Regions from separate parts of the Homo sapiens genome. Here region 2 is linked to region 1. Evidence: fine-mapped expression QTL. Tissue or cell type: cerebellum. Region 1 holds a variant in brackets; the other region holds the start of a gene. All regions are shown on one strand. Distances are from middle to middle.

Region 1 (10,716 bases):
CTGTGTCCCCACCCAAACCTCATCTTGAGTTGTAGCTCCCATAATTCCCACATGTTGTGGGAAGGAACCGGTGGGAGATAATTGAATCATGGGGGCAGGTCTTTCCTGTGCTATTCTCATAATAGTGAATAAGCCTCACGAGATGTGATGGTTTTATAAGGGGAAACCCCTTGTGCTTGGTTCTCATTTTCTCTCCTGCCACCGCCATATAAGAAGTGCCTTCCACCTTCCACCATGATTGTGAGGCTTCCCCACCCACATGGAACTGTGAGTCCGTTAAATCTCTTTTTCTTTATAAATTACCCAGTCTCAGATATGTCTTTATCAGCAGCATGAAAATGGACTAATACAGATACATAATGACAAAATGGACTAAGTGCTCTGAAGAAAACAGGGATTTTATGACAGTCAGTAACTGAGATAATACACTAGGTGGGGTATCCAGGAAGGCTGGAGGGCAGAGGAGGGGAAGGCCTGCTGAGCAGAGGGAACAGTGACTACAAAGGTCCTGGTGACTGCAATGCAGAGAGTAGGAGGGAGAGTGGGTGAGATGAGGCTGGAGTGAAGGCTGAGGACAGGCTATGCACAGGGCCTTGAAGCTCTTGGTTCAAAGTTTTTGTAATTATTATTCTTCAAGATATTGTTGCACTGCCTTCTGGTCTCCACTGTTTCTGATGAGGTCAGTGGTAATTCTAATTGTTGTTCTCCTATATACGGTGTTTCAGTCTGGCTGCATTCAAGATTTTCTCTTCATCATAGTTTGACTATGATATGCCTGGATGTATTCTTTGTATTAGTTTTTCTTTCTTTCTTTTTTTAAATTGGAGACAGAGTCTCACTCTGTCATCCAGGCTGGAGTGTGGTGGCACAATCTTGGCTCACTGCAACCTCCGCCTCCTGGGTTCAAGAGATTCTCCTGCTCAGCCTCCTGAGTAGCTGGGAATACAGGCGTGCGCCACCATGCCCAGCTAATTTTTGTATTTTTAGTAAAGATGGGATTTCACCATGTTGGCCAGGCTGGTCTTGAACTTCTGACCTCAGGTGATTTGCCTGCCTCAGCCTCCCAAAGTACTGGGATTACAGGTGTGAGCCACCAGGCCCAGCCTGTATTAGTTTTTCTTGATGTTCTATGACCTTGAATCTGTAATTGTATGTCTTTCACCATATTTGGAACTCTAATTATGTTTATGTTTTATTTTTCCACAAATCTCTGACACTTTATTTTATTTATGTATTTTTTTTTTTTTTTTTGAGACAGGGTCTTGCTCTGTTACCCAGGCTGGAGTACAGTGGTGCAATCATGGCTCACTGCAGCCTCGACCTCCCAGGCTCAAGTCATCCTCACACCTCAGCCTCCTGAGTAGCTGGGACTACAGGTACATGCTACCATGCCTGGCTAATTTTAACATTTTCTTTTTTTGGTAGAGACAGGATCTCTCTATGTTGCCCAGGCTGGTCTCAAGTTCCTGGGCTCAAACCATCCTCCTACCTGAGCCTCCCAAAGTGCTAGGATTATAGGCATGAGCCATTGTACCTGGCCACACTTTATTTTTAAAATTCATTTTTTTCTGTTCTTAGATTGGATAATTTATATTGATGTATTTTTGCATTTACTAACTCTTTTCTCAGCCATGTCCATTCTGCTGTTAAGCCTAGCCATTGAGTTTGTTATTTTAGACACTGTATTTTTCAGTTCTGGAATTACCATTTGGCTTTTAAAAAATAGTTTCTATTACTCTGCAGAAATGTACTGTCTTTTCAATCTTTTTCTTCTTTTTCTTTTTCTTTTGAGATGGAGTCTCATTCTCAAATGAGACTCCAGCACTGGCTGGAGTGCAGTGGTACAATCTCGGCTCACTGCAATCTCCACCTCCCAGATTCAAGTGATTCTCCTGCCTCAGCCTCCTGTGTAGCTGGGATTAAAAGCACCTGCCACAACACCCGGCTAATTTTTGTATTTTTAGTAGACAGGGTTTCATCATGTTGACCAGGCTGGTCTTGAACTCCTGACCTCAAGTGATCCACCTGCCTCAGCCTCCCAAAGTGCTGGGATTACAGCAATCTTTATTATCATATTTTTAATTATATTATTGAGCACAGTTATACTAGCTGCTTTAAAATCCTTGAAGCTTAATTCCAGCATCAGGGTTGTCTAGGGATGAATCTCCATTGATCATCTTTTCTCTTAAGAATAAATCATGTTTCCCTCTGTATTTCAAGTAATTTTGGATAATATCCTAGCCATTGTGAGTGATCCATTGTAGAAACTGTGTTTCTCTGAAAAGTGTTGGTTTTGTTTTTGGTTTTGTTTTTTAAAGCAAGCAGTTAACCTGACCAAACCAAAACTATAATCTGTCTACCTAGAGATGGGCACAACTATTTTCAGTTCTTTTGGCCTCAACCAGGAGGTTTGGAGTCTGTCCTATGTATACATGATTCAAGATTTGCCAGATATCTGGGAAAAGATTATAGATAGATTTTAGGGCTCTGTCTCTCTGGCTCTTTCCTTTCTGGAACTTTCCCTTTTGTATTTCATTCAGTAGCTGTGCTTTTCCCAAACCCTGTCTTTGGGCTCTTCAAACCAGCAAGCCTGTGGGTTTTCCATCAGAACTATAGCTGGGAGCAGACTGGCATTTTCTTTCAGGCTTCAAGTCATTTATAAAACAAACACAGAAAAAGCCAACACCACTTTGTTCTTTCATGTGTTAACTTTCAAGTGTTATAAGCCTACTTTTGTTCACTTTTCACCTGCCTTAAGTCTCTTTTATTTAGTGTTTTGCCCAGAGTTTATAATTATTATCTGTGGGAGATTTTTTAGTAGGAAGCACTTGAACATCTTAGAAAAATCCTTAAAGCCCTTGGTGAAGAAAAGAAAGGGAAAAATGAACAAAACATATGACATGATCAATCAGATTAGCATCTTCAAAGATTACTTTAGAAGCAGTGTGGAGAGGAGACCAGAACGAATGGAGATGAGTTTGGAAATCACTGCTGAAGTCTGCATGAAACATGATGATAGCTTGGAGTAGATGGTCGCAATGGGGGTGCAGCAAAGTGCTTGGATTTCAGAGACTCCTTTAGGGGGTAACACTGATAGGACTTGCTCCATGCATAGAGTATGTGAAGTGAGAAGTAAGGTGGAGAGAGAAATATCAAGGATGACTCCTAGACTTTTGACTTGCTCAACTAGATGAGTTGGGTGCCACTCCAGAGATAGTAAACCCTGGAAAAGATTCACAAATAAAAAACCGTGTGTGTGAGATGTTCCAAAATAATACATGGACGTGTGAGATAGAGGATTACTCAGATAGCTTCAAGACTTTAGACTTAAGGGACTGGAAAAATAATGGGGCCACTGACAGAAGTAAGGATAGTGAGAATATTTCATCTTTCTTTAAATATTGAGAAGACATTTTGGAATCCAGCAGTGCCTAGGGGTCATAGAAATGCCTTGGGGGCCATGACTGGGATTGCAGTAATGTGGCTAAAGAGATAATGCTGGCCTATAAAAAACTCTGAGAAAATCCCAGAGAAATCAGTTTTATATTACTACACAGATTCAGTTACACCTTGGCTAAATAATGTCCCCTGCTTATGTGGTGCCTCAGGTCACCATAAAGTGTTTAACACAGGCGTTATTCATGTTGCCCAAACCAACTTTATCATACAGGTTTTCTTAATATTAGTAACATTATCAGTTATTAATATTATACTACTAATAGTAATGTAACTATTAAGGTATAGAGTAATTGATTGTCAATTGGATCTTTCCATGGTTTCCAAAGATGTCAGGTCATAGAAATGATGACAATTGCAGGTGGGCCATTGTTTCTCCATCACAAGACAGAGGCACTAAGCAAGGTAACTAAAAGTCACTTCAGTGGTCTCATAATGTATTCAGTTGCCTTGGAAACAGGCATCATTATTATTAGCAACCTCAGTGGTTTATGTATTATTCTTTTTTCCTATGTGTGGATTAATTTTGTATTCATGTTTCCATTGTTAATATAACCAATCTCAAATCCTGTTAAAAAAAAAAAAGGCTTAAACGAATCATTGATTTCTCACAATTGTGGAGGCAGGGAAGTTCCAAATCGAGGTGCTTGCCCATTGTAGGTCCTAGTGAGGGCTCTCTTCCTGGCCTGTGGATGGCTGTCTTCCTGCTGTGGCCTCACATGGCAGAGAGAAGCTCTCCAGTGTCTCTTCTTATAAGGACATTAATTGTATGGGACCAGGATTCCACTCTTATGACCTCATTAGCCTTAATTCTTCACTCCAAATAGAGTCACACCAGGGGTTAGGACTTCAGTGTATAAATTTCGGTGGGTGGTGTGGGGGATATAATTCAGTCCTTAATAAATGTTTTTGCCATTTTTACTGTCATTCTGTCACAAGAACACAGTGGAGTTTTCCAGAGACTACATAAGGGTGTGGTAGCAGCAGGGTGAATGCAGAAGCAGGTATGAGTAGTCAGCAATCCTCCACTAGCCAGACCTTAGAGAGACTCGCCAGGATGTAACCTTTATCACCACTCCTCTCGCTACACTTTTGTTCTTGTGGAAAATAGTTATTTCTTAATTAAAAATGTTATGCTAACAATGTAGTCCATTTCTTTTTTAAAAATAATTAAAAATTTTAAATTTCCATTACGGTAAATGTGATATAAATAGCCTACATAAACAAAAGCTGCCTGGGTGCGGTGGCTCATGCCTGTAATCCCAACACTTTGGGAGGCTGGGGCCTCCCAACACTTCAGGATCACTTGAGTCCAGGCGTTTGAGACCAGCCTGGGCAACATAGTGAGACCCCATCTCTACAAAAGCAAAACAAAACAAAACTCCCAAAGTCAGCTGGGCCTGGTGGCGTGCGTCTGTGGTCCTAGTTACTCTGGAGGCTGAGGTGGGAGGATCGCTTTAGCTCAGGAGGTCGAGGCTGCAGCGACCTCTGATGGCGCCACCGCTCTCCAGCCCGGGAGAGAGCTCAACAACAACAACAACAAACAAACAAACAAAAAACCCCGCAGAAGCTCTCTGGGCTCCTCACTTGTTTAATGGAATGAAGGAGTCCCGAGAGCCACACATTTGGGAACCACCGGTCTCGGCCATGCCCAGCGCGGGCGCACTGTTGCAACACCCCTATCCCTGGCTGCGCAGGGTTCAGCTCTCCGCAAGTACCTTCCTCGCCTTCCTACCCCCCCCAGCCCCCAGCCGCCGCCGCTCCCGCAGCCCCGGTCCCGCGCCTCCCCGCAGCCCCGGCGCCCGCCTACCCGCCAGGCAGGCGGTGGTGTCGATCCACTTGAGCAGCTGCCCCGCGCTCAGCTCGCCGCGCGCAGTGGCGTGCGCCGGCTGGATGGCTTGGCTCATGACCACCTCGCCGGGCGCCGGCCGCTCCATGGCCAGGGCGAGAGCGCTA[C/A]GCCTGCGGCCCCCGACACCCCACCATGCCCGCTCCGCCCGCCCCGCCCTCCCCGCCCAGCTCCAGAGGGCACTGGCGCCGCCCGCCCGGGCCGCGAACCCCTGGCCGCCAGGTGGTGGGAGCTGCGAGTGAGGGGGCCCGCACTGTCATCCCAGGACTATCGCGAGTGGGGGAAAACCAGCGCTCTCGGGTCTCAGGAGAAGTCTGGGAAGTGCGCGGGGAGGGGGCTCCCGGGTAGACAGGTCTGGAAGGCGGCTCCCCGAGAGCCGGAGCGCGAGGAACAGCTTTTGAGATAAAAAAGCTGTTACACTTTCTAGAGCTGCTATCAGTGACTGTACAAAGCAGTCCTCATTAGGGAAACAGTGTCTCCAGAAAACCTCCAGCATCTAATGGATTGGTGGATGTCTGACTGTCAGGGGAGGCTGCTCCAGGGAGCACATTTACGATGGAGAACTGGAAACCCGGAGAAGTGGAGCAAGCAGCTGAGGTGATAGGAGCCGATAAGCGACCCGATCACCTGGCTGGAACCCAGGGCTCCTGACTGTCCGGAATAGCACGAAGAAGCCTAGCCGACTCTCACGAATTGGTGGTGCCTTTTCATCCTTATATTTTTGGCTTGCCAAGCCTCAGCATGGCGACATCAGAATGGAGATTCTGGTATTTTTCTTTCCTTTTTAAAAGATTTTTTTTAAAATGAAAGTGAAGAAATAAGGAAATGTTGACTTGATAGCTTTTAGGAGCCTCTGTGTATAGGTTTCAGGACAATCCAATCATAAATAGGAATTGCATGTTTTCACTGAGGCAAGCATGAAGTCTGACTTATATAAAAGGCATTAAAATAACTTTTAAAAGCAAACAAAAACTTGTGCATCCAAGATGGTCCCATTATGTAGCTATACACTTATTTCAATGATAACGTTATTACATCGCTTTTGGCACTCCTCCTTGGAAAATGCCTTTTTAATGACTTCTGTATTGAGAAATCATAATTTAGGAATTGATAGATTATCATATATTCACTCCATCTACCAATAACTCTGTGAGAGTCATTTATTGACCTTGGACTTGGCCATGTGGCTTGCTTAAGAATGGAATGTGGAGAGATAGCAGTGTACCACCAGTCTTGCCTTTAGAAGCACCGTGTTTCTGTTCTCAGGAACATCTGACCTCTGCCATGAGGTCAAGTAGCTGCCTATTAGCATCTGGGTACCAGACTGAATTCACGTATTGCAGAGGCATCTCAGCCAGCCGGAGGACTCACAGCCTGAAGCAGAGCAACCCAGCAGACATGAAGACTCTTGAGTGAGACATAACTACTTATTGTTGTGTGCCACTGTGATTTTGGGGGTTGTCTGTTATGCAGCAATAGCTGACAGTTACATGAGTGAACTGTATTAATATTTGGGAAGTTTATTAAATTACTGGAAATAAAGTTTGCATTTAGGCTGGGTTGTATTATTTTGGGTAAAAAGTGGTGACTAAAGTGGTGATATTGAATTATGTGTATGGTTGTATACTTGGTTTCTTATAAACTAAAGAAACTTAGGCCAGGCGCAGTGGCTCATGCCTATAATCCCAGCACTTTGGGAGGCTGAGGTTAGGTAAATTGCTTGAGCTCAGGAGTTCAAGACCAGCCTGAGCAACATGGTGAAACCCTCTCTCTACCAAAAATACAAGAATTAGTTGGGCGTGGTGGTGTGTCCCTGTGGTCCCAGCTACTCAGGAGGCTGAGGCAGGAGGATCACTTGAGCCAAAAAGGCAGAGGTTGCAGTGAGCTTGAGTCTCAAAAAAAAAAAAAAAAAAAAAGAAAAAGAAGAAGAAATTTCAAAAATGTTTACGCATAAGTGTAAGAGGATGGGTTTCCAAAATGATTTTCTTGAAGGGGACAGCATGTGTATATTTGTGTGTTTGTCTAGAGATGTTGCTTTAAAAGCAGACATGGTACACAAATTCACTGCTGTGTTTTCTTATCTTTATTATCTCCTGTTTAGATGTCTTCAGATTATGGTTTCATATCTTTTGTTGGTTTCATACTAATTTTCATTTTACTATTCTTGTGTTTTTCTGAATGGTCCCTTTCTTCCTTTTACAATGAAAATGTCATCTGCATGCATGAACATTTGTTACCTCCATTTCTCTCTGGTGTCAAAGATTTTTACTATTATGCTTGAATAAAAGGTCGAGTTTCATTTGTGTTTAGAGACATTTTTGAAGATAAGCAGAATGTGAAGCCAGCTTGATTTTAAAAGTTTGTACACAGGAGCAGGAAAGCTGATCCAAAAAAGTGTGGGAAGTTCCACAATCACTAGAATAACGAGAAAATCTTTAAAATGCTGGAGTGGGAAGGGGAACTGGACAGTCTAAACTCTTATTCTAGAGATGAGGAAATGAAGTGATTTCCTTGGGTCACATTGTAAGGTAGTGGCTGGGTTTTGTGAAAACTAAGAACAAGGAACCTGGAATATAAGTAGAGAGGTAGAAAAAAAAATGCTTTCTCCAGAAACAGAGCCTCTGACAAGAATTTGAGAGCAGACAGTTTATTTGGGAGGAAATTGCAGAAAGCACTGGTAGGGGCATCAAAGTGTAGTCCCCAGGTAAGCAGCCTCAGCCTCACCTAGGATCCTCTTAGAAATGCAGAATCTCAGGCCGGGAGTGTTGGCTCATGCTTATAATCCCAGCACTTTGGGATGCTGAGGCAGGAGGATCACTTCATCCTAGGAGTTTGAGACCAGCCTGAGTAACATAGAGAGACCTTGTCTCTATAAAAAAAAAAAAAAAATTTAAAAATTAGCCAGGAAAGGTAGCATATGCCTGTGGTCCCAGCTACTTTGGGAGGCTGAGGTGGGAGGATTGCTTGAGCCCAGGAGGTCGAGGCTGCAGTGAGCCATGATTGGGCCACTGCACTTCAGTCTGAGTGACACAGTGAGACCCTGTCTCGAAAAGAAAAGAAAAGAAAAAATTATAAATGCAGAATTTCAGGCTCCAACTCAGACCTACTGAATTAGAGTCTAAATTTTATTAAGATTCCTAGGTGATTCAGGGGCACATTACAGTTTGTGAAGAACAGCCCCAGCCATCCCTCCCACTGGCATGAACCCTGGGGTTTTTATCCTCTGACTGGCATCCTTCATTGACTAAGGGCTGGTCCCAGGAGATGAACTCCCCAGGACTTCTGCAGATTTCAGAGCAAGAGCAAGCTTTCAGCTGGAGCTTTATCTCAGTAGGACAGGAAGACGCTGTCAGCTTGGACTAGGACTCAGAATGGTGAGTGCCGTGGCCATGTGGGCAAGGCAGAGAGCCAAAATCCTTACTGTCCTGAACAGCAGAGGCAGCCGGGAGCCTTTCCATTGTGGGAGATATGTCCCAGACAGAGGGTTTGCTAGTTCAAGTACTTCATACAGAGATGAACTTGATTAGCCATCAAACTCTCTCTCTACATTTGGTATGTTTTAAAAGGTGTCAGGTCAGTGTTTCCAAATTCAAATACAAATTTATAAGGATGTGGTTCAAAGTTTAAACTCAGAGCCCCTAAGCAAAAATTCCAGGATGGGTTTTCTCAGCTTTTGGCCGCCAACTTCTTGACTGGAGGGTCTCCTGTCCTTCTCTGCCCCTGAACCCTGCTCTAGGGATGGCAGTGACTTTGGGGAATGGGTTTTCTGCTTGGACTGTCCCTCTTAGCACCTGGAGCCTCAAGATAACCTTGCTCCTGTTTGTCCCTGCACTTCCGGTGGCCCCTTCTTTCTGTCAAGCATTAGGTGTAGAACCTAACAGCCACCACATTTGTGTGGAGTACAGAGCTTTATTTTGTTTGAACAAAAGCCATGTGTATAGAATCTAATTTTTCTGCTTCCCCAGATTTGTTTGGCCCCACTTTCATCCCAGGCCATTGATTACTGCTCAGTGGAGTCCCTTTGCGGTCACCACCACTGCCTGTGAATATGTTGGAGCACATTGTTTTCAAATACTGCATCCCACTTGCTCATGGTATACAATTCTTTCTATATATTGCAGATTTCCATTTACTAATATTTTAATAAGAATTTCTATGTCTGTATTTTTGGGACATGTTGGTCTGCAGTTTTCTTTCTTTAAAACTGTCTTTGTCTGGTTTTGGTGTCAGGGTTCATAAAATGAATCGGGAAATGTTCCCCCACCATGTATTCTGAAAAAGACTGTATATATTTGGTGTTCTTTACACTTTTGGTAGAATTCTCCAGTGAAACTATCTGGGCCCTGAAGATTTTTTTTGGAAGTTTAAAATTTTTTTTTTTTTTTTTTTTTTTTGAGACGGAGTCTCACAGTGGCGCACAGGCTGGGGTGCAATGGCACGATCTCTGTTCCCTGCAACCTCTGCCTCCCAGGTTCAAGCAATTCTCCTGCCTCAGCCTCCTGAGTAGTTGGGATTACAGGTGTCCGCCACCACACCCAGCTAATTTTTTGTATTTTTAGTAGACGGGGTTTCACTATGTTGCCGGGTGGGTCTCGAATGCCTGACCTCATGATCCTCCCGCCTCAGCCTCCCAAAGTGCTGGGATTACAGGTGTGAGCCACCACACCCGGCCATTAATTCGATTTTTGAAACAGTTACAGGGGTACTCAAATTATTTCGTATGGGGTGAGCTGTGGTAGCTTGTTTTTAAAAGAATTACTCCTTTTTATCTCAGAAAAGGTGATTTGCCAAAGACTGAGATTGAGCTAGAGCCTGATCTGGTGCTTTTTCTTCCATCTGGCAGAGCCCTCCCCTCTCTGGCTGGCTCTTAAAGCTGCCCCTTCCTGCCTCCCTGGCTTTCCCCAGATCTCTCCTGCCCACACCATTTCCTGCTTTCTAAGCCAGCTTTCAGCTACTTCCCCTTAGGGGAGTGGTTCTCAAGATTTTCCAGCTCAACCCATACATACTGAATCCGAAATTCCAGGGGTGGGGCCAGTAACTTTTTTTTTTTTGACATGGAGTCTCGCTCTGTTGGCCAGGCTGAAGTGCAATGGCATAGTCTCGGCTCACTGCAACCTCCGCCACCTGGGTTCAAGCGATTCTCCTGCCTCAGCCTCCTGAGTAGCTGGGATTACAGGCACATGCCACCATGCCATTCTAATTTTTGTATTTTTAGTAGAGACGGGGTTTCATCATGTTGGTCAGGCTGGTCTCGAACTCCTGACATTGTGATCCACCCGCCTCGGCCTCCCAAAGTGCTGGGATTACAGGCGTGAGCCACCACACCCAGCCAATAACCTGTTTTTAACAATTTTTCCATGTGCTTCTGCTGCACAGTATGTTAAAAACTACTGCCGTATGGTGTCTTTCTTTAA
Region 2 (7,858 bases), 360 kb after region 1:
AAATTAAGAACAAAAATCTGGTGACATCCATTTTAATGATGACTTCAAGATTCCTACCTTCAGATGTTAGTACATTGTTGCAGAATAGTGCCATTAAAGTCCCAAGTAAACATAAAGAGAAAAACCGAGAGATTAGATCAACTCTCCCACCAAGATGAAATTAAGTTTATTCTATAAGACAGAACCTACGTCGATGTTTGTCTTAGATTCAAACAACATTAACCTAGAAATTAATGCAACGACAATTAACCCAGAACAGTCATTGTCAATTCTCCAAAAGCGGCCTCTTCACCTATATTTAAGTTCATAAGGCAAACCAGTCAAGAATTCCTGCTGCCAATTGAAATGAATGGAAGAAATATATTTAAATCAAATAGCACCATCTAGCAGAACCCTGATCTGCTCACGAGAGTAGATATTACTTGGTGTTCAGTTTGGTAGATTTGACAGCAAAGTGGCAATTATTTGTTTTCCTGGTGGGAAATCACAGAATTAGAGCTAGAAAGGACCACAGTTATGCAAGTTCCAACATCCTTGTTATTATCTGAGAAACTAAAAAAAAAAATCAAGCAGTCCTCAGGATACTGAGTGGGATTCAACTAAAGTTCACCCCTTCCTGGAAGTTCACCTAAAATCTAAAATTACTTTGATTCTCAAATTCAGTCACCCCCAAAATAAGATCATGCCTCAATACATTTCAATCACTCTGACTAATGTGAAATTCAAATATTCTGTGATCATTAAAACATCCTCCTTCAGATGTTTTTATCAGGCACATTATAACAAAATGATTAATGCACACAAATGAGACTGCATTTCAAAACTTCAATTCTAGTAACTGCCGTTTCTTAACCAGGCTATAACGCTATGTCTTTTATATACTACTTGTCACAGCAACAAGATCCTGAATGCAGCTCAGAAAATATCTCTTGCAAAAAAACAAAAAAGCCTCTCTAATTTTTGTTTTGTTTTGTTTTGCTTTGCTACATCAAGGCCTGATACCTCTAAATCCTATGGGAATTGAGTGTGTTGCTGCCAACACAAAGATTAGGAAATGTTCCCATCCCTAGGGCACACAAAACTTTCAGGGGGAGACTAACTGCCTAAACCAAGGAGGGAAACTCAGTCGCCTGCGCATTCGGTTTTTATTTACGCAGCTATTTCTGTGCGCAAGGTAACCAAAGTACCTTTGAGAGATGCTCTCAGACTTTTTCTCTGGTCTGAACCCCCTCAGAAAGACAGGGTGCGTTCAACGACAAGGATAACTCTGACCCTCAGAGTTTAAGTGGTTACTGGGAATCACTGATCTGTTGCACAGTTTAAAAAAAAAAGGGGGGGGTTCTTCCTCAGTGATCACAGTCACTATTCGTTCTCATTTTTAGTAACAACCAAATCACCGTTACAAGTACACAAGAATAGCAGCAAACCGCTTTGCTTTGCAGTGTGCCGTGACAGTGGCATCCCGGGCCGGGAGGGGCTCTGTTCTCGCCAGCCGCCTCTTGGGCTCCCACCGAAGTTAACACCTGTATCTCCCCACAACTGTAACCAAGCGGCTCCTTCCCACCTGAACGCTTCTCCCCTCCCACAAACCCCTTTTCGGACCACTGGCCCTCCCCGCCACAGCTGCCCTCCTCGGGCGCCCCCGGCGGCTCCCACAACTCCCCTCCGCGCGCCCCCGACCACCGCCCCGCCGGGCCCGCCCCTCCCGCCGCTCGGGGGCTGCCAGCCTCACAAAAAGTTCGCCAGCCGCCGCCGCGGAGTTGGGTCCGCTGCGAGAGGCAGAAACGCCAGCCTCCTCCAGCGGATCCCGCTCCTCGCCAACACACTTTAGCTCCCCGGGAACTCGGTCCCTCTCCGACTCCCAAACTTCGGCGGCGTCTCCGGCGCCCACCCGCCCCCGCCCCCGCCCCAGCCCCAGCCCCAGCCCCGCGATGCGCGGGGGACTGCGGGCGCCGCGTCCGTAGCTGGCCCAGGAAAGCCCGGACGCCCAACCCGCACACGCCCTCCGCGCCCCGCGCGCGTCTCCGCGCCCCGCGGGGCCCCGCTCGGCCGCTCCACGCCCGGCTTCCGCCCGCCGCGCGCCCGGCACCGCCGCCCTCGCCTCGCCTCGCCCCGCGCTCGCGGCCCTAAGCCCCAGCGCCCAGGCCCCCGCCGCCGCGCTCCCCGCGCTGCCCGCCCCGACCCCGGCCCCGACCCCGGCCGGCCCGCCAAACACCCACATTCCCACTGCGCGCCTTCCTCCACGCAGCTGCCCCTCCCGCCACCCCCGGCGGCTCCCCAGGTCCCCGGAGCCCCGGACCCCAGCTCTAAAGTTACTTTGGAAGGTGAACCCGCGGGTTATTTCCCTCAATCACCCAAACAAGTTTCCATCCTCGCCACCAGCACCACCGCCGCCCCTCAACACACCCGGTCCCTCCCGCCGACAGCCCCCTGCGGCCGCCCGCCCAGCGCCCGCACCTCCCGGGAAAGCGCAGCTCCCCGCACCACACGCCCCCATCGCGGCACCCCTCCCCCTGCCAGCCCACCCCCGGCGCTCCCCGGGCGGAGAGTGTCTGTGTCTCCCAGAGTGTGCGAGTGCGTGCGTGAGTGTGCGCGCGTGTGAAGGCGGAGGTGGGTGAGAAGCGGAGACACTTACTTCTCCCGGGCCTGGCTGTCGGACGGGACGGCGCTGCTGTTACTCTTGCCTTTGCCGTACATGCTTGTGCCGAGAGCAGCTCCCACTGTCACGCACCTGTCAACCCATCACAGCCTCCCCGGGAACAGCCCCGTCCCCATGGCGACCCACGCAGCCACCCCCACTATTGGCCGCCCCACGCCAAAGCTCCGCCCCCTTCGCCCAGGCAACGCGCGAGACTGACAGGCCTCCCCCTCCCTCTGGCCTTCCGAAGCGCGCGGTGGCGGCTAAGCCTCAGCGGCAGTCTCCTCCCTCCTTCCCTCCCTCCCCGACTCCCTCCCTCCCGCCTTCCCTCTCCGCTCTCCTCCCTCCACCCGCTCTCCTTCCCCCTCCCCCCTCCGAACCCGGGCGCAAGGGGGGAATTAGAAACTGCTCTAGAAGGATTTTAAACAACTGGCTGTTCTCTCCGCCGCCACCCCTCCCCCCGCGCCGCCCGCGCTCAGCTCCTCACTGGAGAGAAGGCGCCGGGAGGAGGAGAAACTGCGGCCTGGAGTCTCCGGCCGGAGCCGGCGGAGCTGGAGCCGTGGCGGCCCCAGACTTCGGGGCGCCCGCCGAGTCCACGACAGAGCCACGGCCTCAGCCGCCCTGGGGCCCCCACCAGCCCCTCTCCCGCTCCTCTCCTATGCGTGACCCCGCGCCGGTACCCACGATTGATTTTTGCGGTCCTCAGCCCTACTCCCTGGGGTGTCGCCCCCGCCCTGTTCCCAGAGGGCCGGCTGGCGAGGGACACCCGCGCGGTTCCCTCGACCTTCTGGCTGAGCGACCGACAGCGACTCGCCTTCTCTCCTGGGGAAAGGCTGCACCTCCGGCCCTCGGCGCCGCTGCGGTGGCGGCGCCCGGGGCCGCGCCCTGCGCCCCAGGGGAGCACCCGGCCTGGGGTCGGCCTCCTCTGTAAGAGGTGAGCGGACCTCCCGAGGAGGCCCGGTGACTCCTGCGGCCGCAGCGGCCCCTGCCCCAACCCCTTCTTGCACGGAGCCCCGCGGCGCCCTGGACACCCCGCCAGATCTGCCGCAGAAGAGGGCCCCAGGCTTCCCCACCCGGCCTGGTTTAACAGTTTGGGTCAGTGATGCCTATTCATCCTGACCCCTGGAGTGGAAAAGGCCAGAAAAGGTCTTGAAAGACTTCCCTGTCCTTGCCCGTTAGAATAGGCCCCAGCGCGCTCCAAGGTGTACAAAGCTGTGCCAGGGCTGAAAGGCTGCCCGAGAATGTTTCTGTATCCAAATCCCTAATCCCATTTCAGTAAACGCGCAAAAGTTTCAGAAACACACACAATCTGGTTCCCAGTAGAACTCTGCATCATTTATCTTATTGAAGTCCTTGACTGTAAAATCAGACGGGTGCAAATGGGGTTAGAAAGAAGATGGGCTTCACACGGGGAAGAAGGGGACAGATGGGGTGGGACAGGGCGACATCTGGAAAGGATGAATAGACAAGAAGTAGCTATGGGAGGAGAGGGAAATCGGATTCGCGTGGAGGAAGGTACCGTTCTATTCCACACACACACAGCTTTAAGCATTTAGTAGGAGGATCATAAAATGCATATGGAGATATACAGATAGATGGAAAGGAAAGAAATGGGTGTGAGCATTGACAGAAGTGATAGGAATAAAACATCAACAGATGATTAAGGAAGGGCAGTTAGCAAAAGTGAGAGGTCGAGAATCAAAAACGCGGTTGGCAACCAGACATAAAGACGGGAAAATGAAGAGGAAGGACTTTCTATACTGGTGTTAATGACAAGGAAAAAAACATGAGGAAAGTGAGGTATAAAAAGATGAGAAGACTAGAAGATACAGGATTAAATGAAGAAGCCATAGAGTGTGATAGCAAAAGATTAAAAGTAATAGAGGACAGACATTATCGTTAAAAAAAAGATATAAGAAAAAAAGCACTTTTATTAAAAGGACAAAAATTAAGCCAATAAAGGAAATGAGGGGGGAAAAGTGGGGGAAAAAAATACACTGGCTTAAGTAGATTAATTTCCAAGAGATGTAATTTGCCATTTCTGACTTAAGAATTCTTCTGTCAGTTTCTAATGACCTACAGTTATTGGGTGGTTAGGATATGGCATTCATATTCTTCTTTTTGTTTCTAATGACCTGCAATGATTGGGTGATTGAAGCGAAGCTGAGCCAGTCAGCCTCTCTTAATGAACTTTTGCTCAAAATGCTCAAATGTGTATAAGGTTGCCACAGTTTACAGACTCAACTTCAAGGTTAGCATTATGTAATTTTTTTGTTCAATTATCTACTTCCATTGGCCTTAACCCAGAAAATTTTTAGTATATCAAGGCTCCATCTCTTATAGAATACTCCCTATAAAGGTGCTGCTCAGAGAATGCTGTCAGTTCTCAGAGAGCTCTGGCAGCTTCTCAGACACCCTCCTGCCTGCCCCTGGAAAAACGAACCAAGGGTGGGCTTTGTCCTACTATCCAAAAACAAAGTAGGTATTATCCTTGCACTGGTGTTGGGACTCTCTTAACTATGGTTCTCAATCATGGCACGTTAGAATTGCCTTTATTTTCATTGTTGTTGGGTTTTGTTTGTTTGTTTATATACTAACTGGATCAGAAACCTTGGGGATGGACCCAGGTACCTGCATTTTTTTCATAAGCTCCACGTGGTTCTTGTGTATAACCAGGGCTGCCTGCCTTTGCTCTTCAGTATCCATTTAAAGACAGCCAATGGGTACCATAAGAGATTAGTACAAGACTTTTAGGTTGGGCTGTCCATTAACAAATGACCCTACTCAAAGCATTAAGATGTCTTTACAGTGTACTTTACTTTCTGCCACCAAGCCAACAAACTTGTTAATAGGACAAAAATGTATGCCCATATGTGTTCTCATAGTACAAGATCATGAATAGCCATGGTTTAATTTGCTATTTCCTATAGAGAAAGGAAAATGAAGAAAGAGAACAGGAGAAACTGTTTGCTGTCTACTGCTATAATTTATTCATTTGATTGGTTTTTACCCAGATTTGTTACATTTGGAAGTCCTATGGGTAATGGCATATTTTCTGATGTTTAAAAAATAAATAAATTATAGATCTGCACAGTGGGGTATGGAATTTAGAACAATTTGGTCTTAGTCTTTGGAAAGAATAAAATGCTAAAAGGTCTTAGTTCAGAACTTGCGAAGTTAATGTCAGAGTTACCTTTATAAGAATGTTCTCATCTGACAAATATACAAAGTGAAAACATGACTTTTATATGTATATGTATCCTGTATATAGTAACCTTAAAGCTTAAGTAATCAAATCAATTATCATTAAAACAGCTCAGCAGCTACCTGAACCATCTCTGTTTTATTTTCCTCTAAATGTTTTCACATGTAAATAAAATGCTTCTTTGCCCTTGTTCAAATTATGTTGAGTACAAAGAGTGTTCTTTGCATCAGCAACTGTATCTCCTGGGACCAATATTGTAATTAATGAGATTTGAAACACATATTCAGAGCCAAATTTGAGATCCCAGACACAAAAATGAAGATCCATTGTTTTGTTTTCATTTTTTAAAAAGGGAAAAGATTGGAGATTTAAAGCTTCCTAGTGTAGAGAATCACAATGTATTTTTAGAGTTTTTTTTTTAACCCACATATGAGATTGATGAATTTGGGGAGCCTGGATTTGGCATAGGGGAACCCTGACCAGCAATGTCACCAGAATGGAACATTTGGAATTGAGGTTGATTTTTTAAAAAAACTTTACTCTTTCAGATATAGAACATCACAATAACTCAATCATTAGGTCTCCCTCATCTGTACCCCCATTTCGTTTGGACACGTGTGCACAATTTTCTCTTTCTGGAACCTACATCTAATTCTTGGAAGTCTTTATCACTTTAAAACAGGCAGTTCATTATGCCACCCTGCTCAAGCTCTAGATTGACTATACATTTCTTTGATCCTAACTTTTTTTTCTGTAGAACATTAAGGTTAATAATGTCTACATTCTTACAGTGCATGAGACCTCAGAAAAGATTTACCTGTTATATACAACAAAGAGACCACCTCTTTATGTTTAAATGGAAGCTAATCATGAATTTAATTATGTGCATCATACAGAACATTTAGCTTATTAACTTAAAACCACTTAGAAATAAAAATATTTAGAAAAATAAACTAAACATTAAAATAAATTTTCTTGTTTTAGAGTAATATTCCCCAAAAATAAAACTGTTCTATTATTTATTTGTTTCATAAAACTAATCAGTTTATACAAATAACTCAGTTGCATTCATACCACTTTTCATTTCAAATCGTTTAACAGATATTCATTCATTATTACTCAATACATCCCAGTTAATTAGATTTCCCTAACCAGCTTTTTAAACTGGGTGAACTGAGTTCTAGATATATTCGTTAGCATTAGCTGATCCAAAAAGAAAACAGAACTAGTTCCAGAAGAAGAACTCCATGTTCCTGGCTGGCAGTCCTTTTCCCAGACCACGAAGCCACACCTCTTTCTCTCAGAAGTGACTATTCCACCAAGGAATGTGAGCAAGCTCTGAGATGTTTGTCATTCAGATTACCTTGTGAAACTTCACTCCCAGGCAGAAGAGACCAGCATGCTCAGATTCACAAAATGCTCAAATGCCATGTACCAAAGTAATGAAATGAATAGTCATTGCAACTATGCTACTGTGCAATTTAGTCACTTACACCAGAATAATAAATGAAATTGGGCCTCAAATTAACATTTTTTGACACACTATTATTGGTTTAACATCAGCTAATCTGAGGCAATGACTGTTTCCATAACCTATTGCCCTGGATTTTTTAAATCCCAATTTACATATTCATAAACACTTACCAATATGTTAGGAGACATGGTGTGCAGATCTGCCAGTTCCAAAGAGTTCCAGCCCTAGAGGGTCTAGTCTTTTTTAGCACTACCAAGAATGTAAAGTTTAGTGACTTGGAATAAAATAAAATTATCCTTATACAAAGAATTATATATAAGCTGAAGATGAAAAATGAAAAACCAGGGCTACCATGTATGGCAATTTCATATACTGTATGTAGCATTTTGCAAAACAAATTCCAAGTGTTGTCATGTTCACTGGCTGGATTTTTGTCATTAAATGTTGAGAGTTATGTAATAGGAAGTGTGCCAAAGAGTGTTCTTTATTCAAAAGTATTACTATTTTTTTTAGTGCATTCCTAAATCTTCACAATGGTTTT

Direction of the effects. Positions count from the first base shown, and alleles are read on the strand shown. Sizes are in standard deviations (SD) of each study's normalised expression.
For the expression in cerebellum of the gene that starts at base 2,752 in region 2, A is the low allele of the variant in region 1 and C is the other (small effect, 0.32 SD a copy in GTEx).

What was found. PIP is the estimated chance that this variant, and not a neighbour inherited with it, causes the effect.
Region 2: it holds the start of SSBP2, and the variant in region 1 is fine-mapped to the expression of SSBP2 in cerebellum (GTEx, PIP 0.97).

What each region holds. Positions count from the first base shown.
Region 1 is chr5:81,388,722-81,399,437 of GRCh38, forward strand. ACOT12 (acyl-CoA thioesterase 12) reads right to left here and starts at 5,413. Exons shown (of 15, transcript NM_130767.3): 1 at 5,267-5,413. The coding sequence starts at 5,393. The variant C/A (reference allele first, on the strand shown) is at 5,413.
Region 2 is chr5:81,748,346-81,756,203 of GRCh38, forward strand. SSBP2 (single stranded DNA binding protein 2) reads right to left here and starts at 2,752. Exons shown (of 17, transcript NM_001256732.3): 1 at 2,636-2,752. The coding sequence starts at 2,697. RefSeq lists silencers at 1,614-1,773, 1,994-2,043, 2,484-2,533, 2,704-3,033, 3,304-3,653 and a cis regulatory region at 6,461-6,546.